Linked DNA regions of Homo sapiens. The protein of the gene in region 1 interacts with the protein of each later gene in a pairwise test. Each region holds a gene or a part of one and is shown on either strand. Other genes may lie near its edges.

Region 1 (7,281 bases):
TTGTACCTCATACTTCTGGTGATATCATCTGCTGAATCTTAAATGTTTTGATGTTCCTATTTTTTCTCAAAACTGTACCCTTGTAATATTTATTATTTTTGCTTCATTGTGTTTATGTATTTTTTCTTTATCAGAATAATTTTATTCTGTTATTCCCATGCTCTTAAGACATCAACCCCTAAATTATTTTACAGTTGGAAATCTGATGTTTTCGTGTCTCTTACCGAACAATTTTCTCTAGGTAGAATCCATAATTGCTCTTGGTAGCCCATTTCAGAATTTTTAAAGTACAGTTCCTCTTTCCTCTTATGTACCTATTGCAGCAGTCATCAAGTAACCTGTTAATCTTTTTTTTCCCCCAAAACTCCAATTCTCTGATCTTTTTTCTCATGGAGCTTTTTTTATACCTTCTCATTAATTGTGCACGTTTTAGTGAATATTCAAGAAGACTAAAAAATCAGTAAGCAAACATATGTATATATAATTTCTGGGTATTGAATGCCCTTCTGTTGTTTCAGCTAAAAGGAGGTGATAAAACTTTTACTAACCTTTCCAGGATCCCACTCTTGAGTTTTTGTCTGAAGCCGTAGAAGCTCGTAAGTTAATTCTAAATTTTCTAATTCAGGTTTGGGAAATCCAGGTAGTACATTGTGTAATTGGAAACCAAATAGCTCCAACCAACTTCTGATGTCTGTGAGACACAATATTAAAAAAAGAAAATGAAAAATCCCATACTTTATAAGCTTTGTTGAAAACTTGAAAGATACCTCTCCTGCCTTCAAACTGTTTAGGCAATAGAAGTTAGGAATAAAACTCCTATTTATTTATTTATTTATTTATTTATTTATTTATTTGACATAGTCTCACTCTGTTGCCCAGGCTGGAGTACAGTGGTGCAATCTTGGCTCACTGCAACCTCCACCTCTTGGGTTCAAGCGATTCTCCTGCCTCAGCCTCCTTCCTGAGTAGCTGGGATTATAGGCATGTGCTAATTTTTGTATTTTTAGTAGAGATGGGGTTTCACCATGTTGGCCAGGCTGGTCTCAAACTCCTGGCCTCAAGTGATCTGCCTGCCTCAGCCTCCCAATGCTGGGATTACAGGTGTGAGCCACCGCACCCAGCCTAAAACTCCCCTTTATATGGCCCACACTAAAACACCTGATCCTCTCTCTACAGGGTAGAGTGTTGATTTGTGGATAACCCTGGATTATAATATCAGCTTATATGATGAAACAAGAATCCTGAATTTTTCTTTTACGAAATTATTCATATAAGCTTGTAAGAGTAAAACACAGAAACAGCTAAAAAATGTAGTAGGATGCAAAAGTATTATATGTTAACATGCACGTTTTGCTCACTCTAGAAAACTAAGGAAGACAGCAAATGCACAATAACTTGCGGGCTAACTGTCAGGAAGAGGAAGCATATTTACAAAGGCATTGAGATTCTGTGATAAAATCAACAGTACTGAGTTACTCAAGTTTAGCTTAAAGTTTTAAATAGTTTAAATACCTGTGGTATACTTTGCAACATCTTGAATTTTGCCAACTGGGTAGTTATTTTCAAAGGAGTAGAGGTTGAATGGTTTAGGAAGGAGGTTCAACTGTTTCCATATGTGATGATTAGGCGTTGTCCATCTGCCAGCAACAACATCATAATCCCTTTGCCCCAGGTGCACTAATTTAGTAAGGAAATCATAGAGTCCTCCATGAAAACCAATAATGACCTGAAAGTCAGGGTAAGTGTCATGATAGATATCGCCATAAGGTGTGTATAGTATCTCCTTTATGACCTGACCTCGGCTGCTGAACACAGCTAGTGGGGTACCTGTATTATCACAGGCTACATAATATTCTTCACCACTGCTTAACTCCATGGCAATAAGGTGACCTTGGAGATCATAATACAGAGATGTAATCTCCGAGCTTGTGTGGTTGTACAAATGAGTAACTCTTATGGGGTTGGTAAGGTCTGCATAAAAGAACTGAAGGTGCTGCCCTAGGCTGGACTTACTCGCGACACGTCGCCCAAGCCCATCATAGTAATACTGCACAGTCCAGCCAGAAGCCTTATTGTAGGCTTTCTGCAGCAGGCCATTAGAATTATATTCAAAAATATCATTTCCCCTCTGCCTCAGAAAGCCATCTTCATCCATTTTATACTGAATTTCTCCTAATCTGGTGATGCGGTCTCGGAGGTCATATCGGAGAGGAGTAAGACGAGCACTCTTCCCATGGCTTAAGAGGTTGATGTTTCCATTCAGATCGTAACTATAACGCCACTGGGTTTTGTCATTTACAGAAACAGTCTGAAGTTGCCCATCAGCATCGTATTCATAGAAGTACCTTGTTATATTGGCATCTACTCCTACCCTTATGTCACATATTACCATGCGGCCCACATTATCATATTGAATGGTCATCCAGTAGGCAATTGCCTTTAGGATTTCATATTGGACTTCAATGACTTGTCCATTGGCACTGAAGATTTTGGTGTGTTTCATCACTGTAGTAGTTATGACCTGATTTAAATCGTAATTAATTACACTGAATTTTCCAAACTGCTCTGTTCTGCCAGAGACATCAACATATCGGTAAAGATCTATAGGCAAAGGGGTTTCATTGATTACAGCTTGCATGCTTGTGACTCGGAAATTGTTGTAGCTGTAGTCGAACCGTGCATTCACAAGGCCTTCTTCACTGAATCTGAAAATCTGGCGTCCAATAAGAGGTCCTGCAGGAACCAAAACAAAAACAGTAAGAAGCTAGGCGATCAATGTGGAAGAGTCAGAAAGGTCTAGTGTTATTTTATTTAGTACTGGTGCTTTTATATTCATAATACAATATTAGAGACTGATCTCTGATATCAAATGCCTGGGCATATTACCTCATGGATATATATTCTCATAGTGGTAATCCTCAAATATAAAAAATTAAAATACTCTATAGTTATAGAAAATTTTAATTATAGAAACTACAGAAGTAATAACACATCCAGTAGCCCAGGGTGATGAAATTGATACTTCTTGCTATAATCACTGACAAAAATGCTTTCATTTCATTTAACCTTTGCTACAAAGTCAGAGGGTCAGGTTTTGACAAATTCCAGCATTAAAGTAACTGGATTTGGGCATTCTATAAACCCAAAGGGTGAAATACATTAGAAAGTTCTGACTTGTGAAGATATTTTGTCATCAACTGAGGCTTATAAAGGTTACACAGGGCTTGAGCTAGTTTCAGTGAGACTTATATCTTGCCGTTTCATCTTTGAGAAGATTTGGTGCTGAGCAGGAATGGGTATACAGTTACACTAGGCACTTGGATTTCAAATTACTTGAGAGCTGAAAGAAAGAAATGCACTATATGTTTTTAAGAAATCAGCTTTCATCAGACTATAACATGCTTTACATTTTCAATGTCAGATAATTTGATAAGTAAAGTGAAAGTTGGGTTGAATGTGTGTAGATTAATGCTTCTATCTCACACTGTGGTCAGTAAAAATGTCATAAGAAAATAGTGATGTTGTTGTACACACCACCACTCTTTCACAACAAACCTGTTTGCCTGTATCTGATTGTGCAGATGAATCCGTCATGCATCAGGTGTATTGTCTTAATCACTCCAGAAGACTCTTCATATGTTAATGTGACCTGAGTGGTATCATAGAGAACCTCAGAAAGCCTTGCTTGCTTGGTGTACTTGTATAAGACTCTGCGCCCTGTCCCCAGATGCAGGGTCTGTAGCAATCGGCCATCTCGACTATAGTCTTGGATAAAAGAAGTGCTACTGTCCGGTGGGGTGTAGATGTTCCGGTAGTAGCCCACTGAAAGCATGGTTTGTAAGCTGTGACGCACCATGCTAGGCATGGTGACTGAGAGCAGACAATCTGGTTGGTCATACTCAAAGATGTAACGCCGCTGGCTGTGTAGGAGAAGCATCACAGACTGAAACGAGACAAAGGCAGAATAGCATATTATGGACAACTAAAGTTGAGGCGACTAAAGAAAATACACATTCATCCATTCAACACAAATCAATCAAGCACTTACTGTGTGCCAGACACTGTGGCAAACCCTAGTGGATACAGTAGTGCACAATAGTGGTGTCTATCTTCATGAAATTTACAGTTTTAATGGAGGAGAAAGACAAGTAACCAAGCAATTACAATATAGTGTGAAATGTGTTATGACAGGGGAGTTACAGAGTGCTTCTGGAAGGCAGAGGAAGACCAGCTTACTCAGACTTGAGAGACCAGAAAAGGCTTCTTGGATAAAGTGGCATCTGAGTTGAGACATAAAGATTGCCTAGGGATTGTCCAGGTGAAGGCAGGGAGCCGGGGGCAGGGGTAGGGAAAGAGTATTCTTGGCAGAGAGCACAGCCTTGTGAGGGTCTGGATATGAAAAAGAACACGGCTTTTTCAGAGAATGAGAGAAATTTTGTGTGGCTAGAACTTGAGTATGTTGGGAGTGGTGGGAATGGCAGGAGATGACGTCAGCTATGTAGGCTGAGTCCAGATCATGCTAGGCTTTCTAAGCCACACTAAGGAGTTTGGATTCAAGTATGTTGGCAACAGGGAGTCATCGAAGGGTTTCTATTTTATTTCATTTTTTTAGAGCCAGGGTCTCACGGTGTTGCCCAGGCTGGAGTGCAGTGGTGTAGTCATAGCTCACTGCAGCCTCGAACTCCTGAGCTTAGGCTATCCTCCTGTCTCAGCCTCCTGAGTAACTGGGACTACCAATGTGTGCCACTGCATCTGGCACTCTTGAAGGGTTTTAAGCAAGTTAAGGGACGGTTGCAAGAGGGCACTTGCAAGCTGGGAGAAACTGTCAAGTTGGTATTTTAGAAAGGTTACTTCAACGTGCATATGTTTCAGAGGAAGGTAAATGGATGGCAGGGCATTTCACAAATTAATTTATAGTTATCATAAAGTATTGATTGACTTCACATACTAGATGTCTTCCTAAAAATTGTGCATAAAATATTATTATGGCACTATTAATGTTTTGCAATTGATGTTTTAACTTCACATTTCCATTTGTGTTTTAATATTAGGGAAGCATGTCATTAAAACTGAATGATTCTCTGGTTATGCAGCCCCTCTCCCCCAAACTGATCTGTATTTTAGAAACAGTTGTTTGTTGAGGTATAATGCAGGTAACAGGTGTTTCATAAATATTGATTGTCTTGTTTTAATTCTAAATGCAGACATAAAAGGAGCACTGTTTTAGGGAGGACTCTAATTGACTGACATGTGCATCTCATCTTTTAATAAAAATAAAAATTTCTCATCCTTGGAGATTCTGATATGACTCCCTAGAGGAGCTTTATCCTTCCCCTTTAGAAAATTACCTTTTCAAGCAAAGAGATTTAGTTGAGGGTTATTTATTCAAGTTTGTGTTATGAAAACAATAGGTATATTTTCATTTTCTAAGCACAAATTATATAAATATTTATGAATGTGAATTACACAAGTATATGTAATGTACATTTATATCTTCTAAATATGACATTACATTCTAATATTGAATGTGCTTTCTGAAACTGCATATCCTCCCTACCCTTCTGAGAATTATTGACTTTGAATTGCATTTCAGTACCATGAAGTCAAAGTCAGTGGTTATTTGCTCATTTGTTCATTCTTTCTTTTCCACCAACATTACGCCTGCAGAGCCAGAGGTGAGTGCAGAAATCCTGTCAATTCGTCACTTGTGGACAACCTGCAGCTTGCCACAGCCTACAGTTCCACCACTGTGACCTCTGAAAACCTCCTGAACAAAAGGAAGGAGACTTGGAAATCCTGAATGGGCTTGGAGACATTAAGGGAGAACTGCCTCCCTGGACCAAGGCAGAATTCAATAGAACCAGCAAGAAATTTTCCTATGAATGGGAAAGCAGGTGGCAGGGGGCAGGGGTGGAAAAGCTTTGTACAGGAATTGTGGAAAAGCTTTTGCATTATCTCTAGTCTGAAAGTCACATTTCTCAGTTCCTTTCCACTCTCTTCTGTCAACTTGCTGTGAGTAAATGACATCTGTCACCTGTGACACGGGCCAGGGACTATCACCATATGGCCCCCACACATTATCTAGTACCAGCCTGCCTGGGCCATGCCTTTTCCAGTCACTGTACCAGCCTTTCCAAGTATTTATGGCACGTCGTTGTTATTCTCTCCTCTGTTCCCATCCTCCTGCCTGCAGTAAACCACTGCCTGAACCGTGTTCCTAGGTGGTGCTGATGCTGGGCTGTCTCAAAAGCCCTTAGTCTGTTTCAAAGCTTCCTGCCAATGGCAAGAATGTGGATGATGTGATTAGAAATCAAATGAATGTAACTGTTACATTGCCAAAATACCATTTAGCTCTCATTTGGCTGCTTTTTCACTTTGGGTGGGCATTATTATCAGTTTGCTCAAAAACAGTGCTTATGAATCTATCCAATGTCCACAATGCTGTTATAGGATAAAAGGCCATTTCTTATTAGTCCAAATAACAGAGTGGGAGACTTTTATTCTTTTAATTGATTGTGAGGTTCTAAAAGAGATAATTGTAAAAGCAACAACAACAGCAACAGCAATCATGGCTGTATGCTTATTTGAACAAGACTAGAAATGAGAGCAGAAATTTGAAAAGTTAAAGCATTTGAATGACCACCAGATGGCAGTGTGGGGCCACCTGGAAGCTGAAGCCAAAGTCGTCGTTCTGTCTCTCTAGGCAGCCTCTGAAAGTGTCAGCCCCAAAGAGGCAATTGCTGTAAATGTATAAGGCTAAAGTATCTTATTAAATGATTATAAAATATATTTAAATGCATTTTAAAAATGAAGTTCATAAGAATTATTTTAGGAAACTGAAAGGTTTACATTTACTCTAATACAAAATTTTAGCCCACAAGTCTTCAAAATATAATTAACTCAGAGAAGTCTCATAAATCAAGACAGAGAATTAATGACCACATAGAGAAAATTTAAGAAACAATAATTGATTTTTTTAATAGGGAAGAGATCATTAAGCAACCACAGCCATTACCCAAATAATTATTTTTCTCCTAATGGCTACAACCATTGTGCATGAAAATGATATGCATAAGTTTCACTTACTCTAGAAGAAGTCAAACTATTTTCACAAAATTTCTGCGTGTTAAGGTGAAAAATCTGCTGCTGCTTTTTAATACATCGTGACACAGGTATGGCAAGCGAATTCACAAGGTAATACCAGAGTATTTTGGGGTGTAAAAAGAGAAATCCATTTTAAAGTTTGAGAATTCTTAGTTTAAAATATACTACAAGAACGAG
Region 2 (7,281 bases), on another chromosome or scaffold:
TGAAGGAGAACACCACGGCCGGGTGGGAATCTTCCCACGCACCTACATCGAGGTACCGCAGCCTCTTTTCTTTCTAAGGAAAAGCCTGACAGTGCCCAAAGCACCATTTATTTACCAAATGCTTATGTTTTGTTTCCTCCTTTTCCTCTTGTTTCCCTGCTTTCTTCTCTTCCCTTGTTCTCTTTTACCTCTTTCCCTTTCTCAGCTTCTTCCTCCTGCTGAGAAGGCACAGCCCAAAAAGTTGACACCAGTGCAGGTTTTGGAATATGGAGAAGCTATTGCTAAGTTTAACTTTAATGGTGATACACAAGTAGAAATGTCCTTCAGAAAGGTAAGCTGCACTTCTCATGCCTTGCTTTGGGGCTCTCTTGGATGGCGCAGCTATGTGGGGAAGCGTGGTGTTGCTATCACACCCCAGTCTGGGGGTGCTGTCTGTACCCTTAAGAGAAGTATGCCAATCAATAATTGCATTAAGGGCTGGGCACGGTGGCTCATGCCTGTAATCCCAGCACTTTGGGAGGCCGAGGTGGGTAGATCACTTGAGGTCAGGCGTTTGAGACTAGCCTGGCCAACATGGTGAAACCCCGTCTCTACTAAAAATACAAAAATTAGCTGGGCATGGTAGTGGGTTCCTGTAATCCCAGCTATTCAGGAGGCTGAGGCAGGAGAATCATTTGAACCTGGGAGACAGAGGTTGCAGTGAGCTGAGATCGCTCCACTGCACTCCAGCCTGGGCAATAGGTCTCCAAAAAAAAAAAAAAGAATTGCATTAAGGCCTGTAATCCCAGCACTTTGGGAAACCAAGGCAGGAGGCTCGCTTAAGGCCAGGGGTTCAAGACCAGCCTGAGCAACGTAGCAAGGCCCCATCTCTACTGAAGAAAAAAAAAAAAAGAATTGCATTAAGGGCAATTGGAGAATTTTCTGAGGTAAGGTATTTTTAAAATAAACCCTAGGCTAATATCAGGGTTTAACTATATTGAGCTCACTGATTAAACATAGTATTTCTGGAGTCTTAGACATCTTTTATAAGCTGTTTTCAACCAACACTTACCAACTAATGATGTCATAATGCATTGTGTTGGGGACTGGGTTTTACAATATATTGGTGTGACCTAGTGGAAAAAACAGGTCCATTGATACCAGGAGAAGTTTGAAAAGCTTTGAACCCAAAAGGCACAAACCAACTACGCAGAATGTGGGAGTTAAATACTTTTTCCAAGCCACCATTTTCTTATAGAAAAAAAATGAAGATAGATGGCTCTCTCCTAGGTGGTTGTAAGAGGCTTCGGTGAAACAACTTATGTGAAGCCCCCAGCATGACACATGGTATCTTGTTGGTGCTTAGTAAACAGGAGATGCCAGTATTATTATTATCACCATCATGCTTATTCAGAACATAATTACATTGTGCAGAGAAGTTGTTCTTTCCAGAATCCAAACACTCTACATGGCAAAATTCTCTGGCTTGCTAAAGTTACTAAGTTACTGATTTTATTGAGGCTTGAGGGAAGTGAGCACATTGTTAGAAAAAGCACTGGAAGCAACCCAGTTGCCCAACAGCAGGGGATCAGTAATTAAATCATTATATGTGTGTGCGACAGAATACCCTGCAGTGGTCCATTAAGCTATGCAATGCCATTAAAAATCTAGAATTCTATTTCTTGATAAAGAAGGAGGTTTACTATGTGCTATTAAGTATTTTTTAAAAAGCAAGTTGGAAAAGGGAAACACAGTTCATACTCAATTTTTATAAGAAAAAATATGTGCAGGTTTAATTCACATGCATAGAAGTAAATCTGGGGAGTCCATATGCCAAATATTAAGTGTTTATCCCCAAATGACTATGTGATGGGTGATGATTGTTTTCTGCTTTACGTTTGTGTTCTGATTTTTCTATAATGATACATTATAAGTATCTATAATGCTACAAAAGAAAGAAAAAGTGAAACCCCCCAAAATCTTTGCCTTAGAAATGAAGATTGGGTATCTGTTTCACATTAAATGAGTCAAAAACACTACATTTGTTCCCTGGCTTAGGGACACAAATCTGATGTTCTCCTTTACTAAAATACTTAAAGAACCAAGCTGAACTTCCCAGCATCAAGATAGCTCCTCTGCCATTAGCATCCTCATCCCAGTGGTGTTAATTCCCTCCAGGTTCAGCAGGGAAGGTTTTTCCTGAGCTAAGGATGTGATAAACAATGCAGGACATTGAAGCATGCAGGCAGAGGCCCCAGGCATGCAGAGGCATGCTAGGACAAGGACCCTCTCTTTGCTGTGTCTTCCAGGGTGAGAGGATCACACTGCTCCGGCAGGTAGATGAGAACTGGTACGAAGGGAGGATCCCGGGGACATCCCGACAAGGCATCTTCCCCATCACCTACGTGGATGTGATCAAGCGACCACTGGTGAAAAACCCTGTGGATTACATGGACCTGCCTTTCTCCTCCTCCCCAAGTCGCAGTGCCACTGCAAGCCCACAGGTATCTAAGCTTCTCGTCACTGGTTTTCATACTCAGCATGTGAATTTTTGTAGTCAACAGTGCTGATGGCACACAGCCTCTCTGGGGAGGTTTTTGAGCACTGCAATTAAAAACTGTCTGCAGGAGGCCGGGTGTGGTGGCTCATGCCTGTAATCCCAGCACTTTGGGAGGCCGAGGCGGGTGAATCACCTGAGGTCAGGAGTTCAAGATCAGCCTGGCAACATGGTGAAACCCCATCTCTACCAAAAATTCAAAAATTAGCCAGGCGTGGTGGCGGGCGCCTGTAGTCCCAGCTACTCGGGAGGTTGAGGCAGGAGAATCGCTTAAACCTGGGAGGCAGAGGTTGCAGTGAGCCGAGATCATGCCACTGCACTCCAGCCTGGACGACAGAGCGAGACTCCATCTCAAAAAAAAAAAAACTGCAGGAAAGCAGACTGTACACTGGACTTTGTCTTTATGCATACAAATGGCCTTTTCCAGTGCTTGGTTGCAGATATATCTCAAGGGAAAAGGAATAGTCAAGTAATTGCTCTGGGAATAAGGTGACTAGGGAAAGAGAAACAGAGAAACAAGAGCCTTTATCAGTTGGCCCCTCTTGGGTGAAGCTGTTGGTGTGGGTACCACCACTGTGTCATAAATCCCATGGTCCAAATGCGGTCCTCAGTCATCTTGGCCAAAGTTGACCTGCAGAAGACAAAGGCTGAAAGAGAGACTTACACCTTCTCATCAGCCATATAGACCAGATCCAAAGTATTATTTGCATTCACTGGAACCAGGTGATTGGAACAAGTAACTTACAGCATCTCAGTCTCTGTGGGCTGAAAGGATATAGGTTTATAGGCGTAATAAGATGTTGGCTTTCCCAAACATTAATTATGAACAAACTTGTTTAGAAATATAAACTATTCCTAACTGATCCCCACTTTCCCAAAGCCAAGAAAATGTCAGAACCTTGAGTTCAGGGTGACACGGTGGGGGTGACATCCCTGTGAAAGAGCCTGGACAAACCACCATGTATGTTGTAAGGAGGTTGGCAGAGGAACAAGAGTAGGACCTGGGGGCCCAGGTTGACCCTGAGATGGTGCCTCTTGTCTGGTCCTCTAATTGTTTCCTCCTCTGCCACCTGCTCATCACTGACCCCAGTAGAGGGTTCTTGGCAGAAAGCATTAAACGGGCTGACCCAGGGCTTCCTGGACAGTGATAGCCGCATCCTGTTGTCTTATAGGACAGAGTGTGTGACTGGAGTGGGACATTCTTCTTTGTAAGGATGCAGGGAACTCAACTACATTTTTCACTTGACTAGCCAAGAGTGATTGTAAAACAAAACTAGTACACTACTCATACTCCTCTCTGGAAGACTCTGCTGAGCTCCCAGAGAAAATAAAACCCCAGGGAAGGGCCATGGCAGTGTGGGGCCACCTTTCCCCGTATGGTTCCGGGTCAGGGATCTGGATGCACAGGGGCTGGGTTGGCTGGGATGGGGAGCTTCCAATGTGTCCCTTTGAAAATCTGATTCTGCAAAGCAGGGCGGCCTCATCCGTCACTACTCTGACGGGAACCTCTCCCCATCTCCACACCTCTCACTGCTTCCTCCACCCCCTGCCTGCACACATCAGGATCACGCTCGCACATGCTCAAACGCACACTCACCCATCCTGGTTTCTCCCCAGATGTAACCTGAGGATTTCCTTTTTGGACACCAGAGTGTCCTTGCTCATCCTCTCCATTTCATTCCTCTTTATATACCCCTTGTGATTATTTTCCTTCTTTTTCCTTTATGCTGACACTTGTACCTTTTGCTTCTTTCTTTTGTTTTCCTCTCTTTTCTTCTTTTTAAGTTTTCCAGTCACAGCAAGCTCATCACGCCAGCCCCCTCATCTCTGCCCCACTCCCGCCGAGCCCTGTCCCCCGAGATGCACGCTGTCACCTCTGAGTGGATCTCACTGACTGTGGGGGTCCCAGGCAGGCGTTCTCTGGCCCTGACCCCACCCTTGCCTCCTCTGCCAGAGGCTTCTATCTATAACACTGACCACCTCGCCTTGTCACCAAGGGCCAGTCCCTCCCTGTCTCTCAGCCTCCCCCATTTGAGTTGGTCAGATCGTCCCACCCCACGATCAGTAGCTTCTCCACTGGCCCTACCTTCCCCACACAAAACCTACTCCCTAGCACCTACTTCCCAGGCCTCCCTTCACATGAATGGAGACGGTGGTGTCCACACGCCATCTTCAGGCATCCACCAAGATAGCTTCTTGCAGCTGCCGCTGGGGAGCTCTGATAGTGTCATCTCCCAGCTTAGTGATGCCTTTAGCAGCCAGAGCAAGAGGCAGCCATGGCGCGAAGAGAGTGGACAATATGAGAGGAAAGCAGAGAGGGGGGCAGGCGAAAGAGGCCCTGGTGGACCCAAGATCTCTAAGAAGAGCTGCTTGAAGCCTTCAGACGTGGTCAGGTGCCTGAGTACTGAACAGAGACTCTCAGATCTCAACACCCCTGAGGAGAGCCGGCCCGGCAAGCCCCTGGGTAGCGCTTTTCCAGGAAGTGAGGCTGAGCAGACAGAGCGGCATAGAGGTGGCGAGCAGGCGGGGAGGAAAGCTGCTCGGAGAGGTGGGAGCCAGGTAGGACTGCAGCATGCCGCGTGTGCACTTGGCGTCTCACTTGGCAGGGTGGGCTGCACGTCTCGCCCCTGGTCCATCTACGGAGGCCAAGTGAATGCTGGTGAGACCATTTGCTTGCCTCAGGAGCAAAGAGATGGCCCCAGAGGGAATGGGAGGACATGAATTCAGGTGCCAGGACTGGATACAGTTGGAGGGAAAGGACAGGCTATATCTGGCCACTTGAGGTCATTTGGAAGTTATCTCTACTTTGAATGCCTCCTGGCCTGCTGCAAGGGCCTCTGAGAAGGCAGACCTTCCTCACATCCCATGTATGCCTTAGAGATGACCCTCAGTTTGCTTTGACTAACACAGCTGAGAACACCAGGCTTTGGTGTGGTGTGGTTTGCTTTTATGTAAGATGCACTTTGTTTCCATAACCCATGGTGCTCTGCTAGTGCTCGGCTCTGTCAGGTCTTTGTCCTGTCTCGTGTTTGTGTGGGAGCGCGGGGCCTTTGTTTGCTATGAAACAAAGGTGTTTTGGTTCTGGAGAGGAGAATGCAGGTCTCCTGGGGCCCTGACTGACATGGGGTATCCTCGAATAGCCATGCCAGGTTTTGGGGTGAGTGTACCATCTTCTCTCTGGGTCAGCTACAAAGACCCAGAGAGCATTTGGACAAAGGTAGCCTTAGGGTGTTTTGAGACCTGAAAATTTTTTTGGAGAAATGAACTTAGCAACTAAACAAATCACAATTCTGATTTTGGCTATGCTGTTGACTACTGCGAAAGTCAAAGACTTTCGGCAACTTCTCAGAAGCAACCAGGTTTGAATGCCAGCTCCACCTCTTACAGTCTAGTGACTTGGGAGTTGCTTCCCCTGTCTGAGACTCAGTTTCCTCATCTGTAAAATGGAGATGATAGCACCTACCTCAAAGAGTGGTTGATTACAAGGGCTTATGATCCTGGGAACATGGTCAGCACTTTATAAACGGAAGCTATAGAGCCACCATCTTGGGTGATCTAGAATTGCTTCTAGAACTGAGAATATTTTTAGAACTTCCTTAGACCCAGATTGAGTTCCTGAAGATGTCTCCAAGCCATTTATTAAGTATCTAGTATGTCTGATGTCCACAGTAAATAGTGCTTAACCCTTAGGCTTGCAACCTCAGTTTCCCTTTGAGGCTGTAGTTATTCAGTCTATGAATAAGGCCTGCAGGTACCAGCCTCTGGGCAGAATACAAAGGTCATTTGTCTCTCCTCTTGAGAACCCTAAGTTCAAGGCTCCTCAAAACAAGGAGGAGCCTAGCAATATCACCAGGGCAATAATAGAGGCATGCTTGGGGGACACAGGAGCACAGAGGCTTGAGACACACTAGGCCAGACTTCCAGCTCCAGCCAAGCACATGTGGGCCCATGGGTGGGCCAGCACATCAGGAGTGGGGATCACTGAGGGTGAGCCGGCATGGGGCAGTTTATAAGAAATCAGGCTTAGCCTTTTGCTAGAAAGCCACTTAACCTCTCACATGCTAAGCAGGAGTGGAAGCAGTCCATCCCTTGTAGGGCAGTCATAAGGATTCAGTGAGGTAATTCATGGAAGTCGGTGCTTGGCATGTGCCAAGGCTCCATATGTGGGGTCACCCGCTGCTGTGGAGGGCTGTAGGAAAGCAGTAATACCTGGCAAAGGCTTTGCCTGGCCCTGGAACAGGTTGAGGAAGGAATAGAAGAGATGGTGAAGTGGCTAGTTGAAAAGAATTAAACGTTTCTGACACAGGAACAATTCTATAAACATTCTAAGTCAACCCAAGGCACCCGGGGACATCCTTATCGTCAGTGTTGAGTCATCATCCCGGCCCAATTCCAGGATCCTGTGTGTATAGGAAGTGCGCACGGTGCCGGATCTCCGAGTAAGGTTAGGGGTATACGCTTCCTGCTTCCTAAGGCAGGATAGGAGGGGAGTAGCTGGCAACACTGAAGATTATGTTGATTGGAAAGCCAGGCTTGTTGAAACTTGGTGTTCCTTTCTTGGTGGGCCTCCAGACCCCAAGTGTACCACTTCCTGTCCCCTCCCTTCCTCCTGCCCTCCTGGCACAAGCCCCTTCTCCATGGGTGTGCACAGGCTGTGGCCTGGGGCTCGCTCCCCCTTGAGAGCTGGCATTTGTGTGAAAAGGGCTGCTGCCCACACCTCCCCTTCAGCCCCCTCACTTTCCCCT

Evidence for each region.
Region 2: the proteins of TENM1 (region 1) and SORBS1 interact in a two-hybrid assay, tested with the Homo sapiens proteins (one study listed by BioGRID).

The regions. Positions count from the first base shown.
Region 1 is NC_000023.11:124,382,122-124,389,402, forward strand, and holds part of TENM1 (teneurin-1 isoform 1 precursor), read right to left. Parts: exon of another isoform or gene 5,668-7,281; intron 3,944-5,667; coding exon 3,556-3,943; intron 2,734-3,555; coding exon 1,513-2,733; intron 692-1,512; coding exon 549-691; intron 1-548. UniProt on the Homo sapiens protein: Involved in neural development, regulating the establishment of proper connectivity within the nervous system. May function as a cellular signal transducer.
Region 2 is NC_000010.11:95,334,335-95,341,615, reverse strand, and holds part of SORBS1 (sorbin and SH3 domain-containing protein 1), read left to right. Parts: coding exon 1-52; intron 53-205; coding exon 206-331; intron 332-2,288; coding exon 2,289-2,483; intron 2,484-4,321; coding exon 4,322-5,095; intron 5,096-7,281. UniProt on the Homo sapiens protein: Plays a role in tyrosine phosphorylation of CBL by linking CBL to the insulin receptor. Required for insulin-stimulated glucose transport. Involved in formation of actin stress fibers and focal adhesions.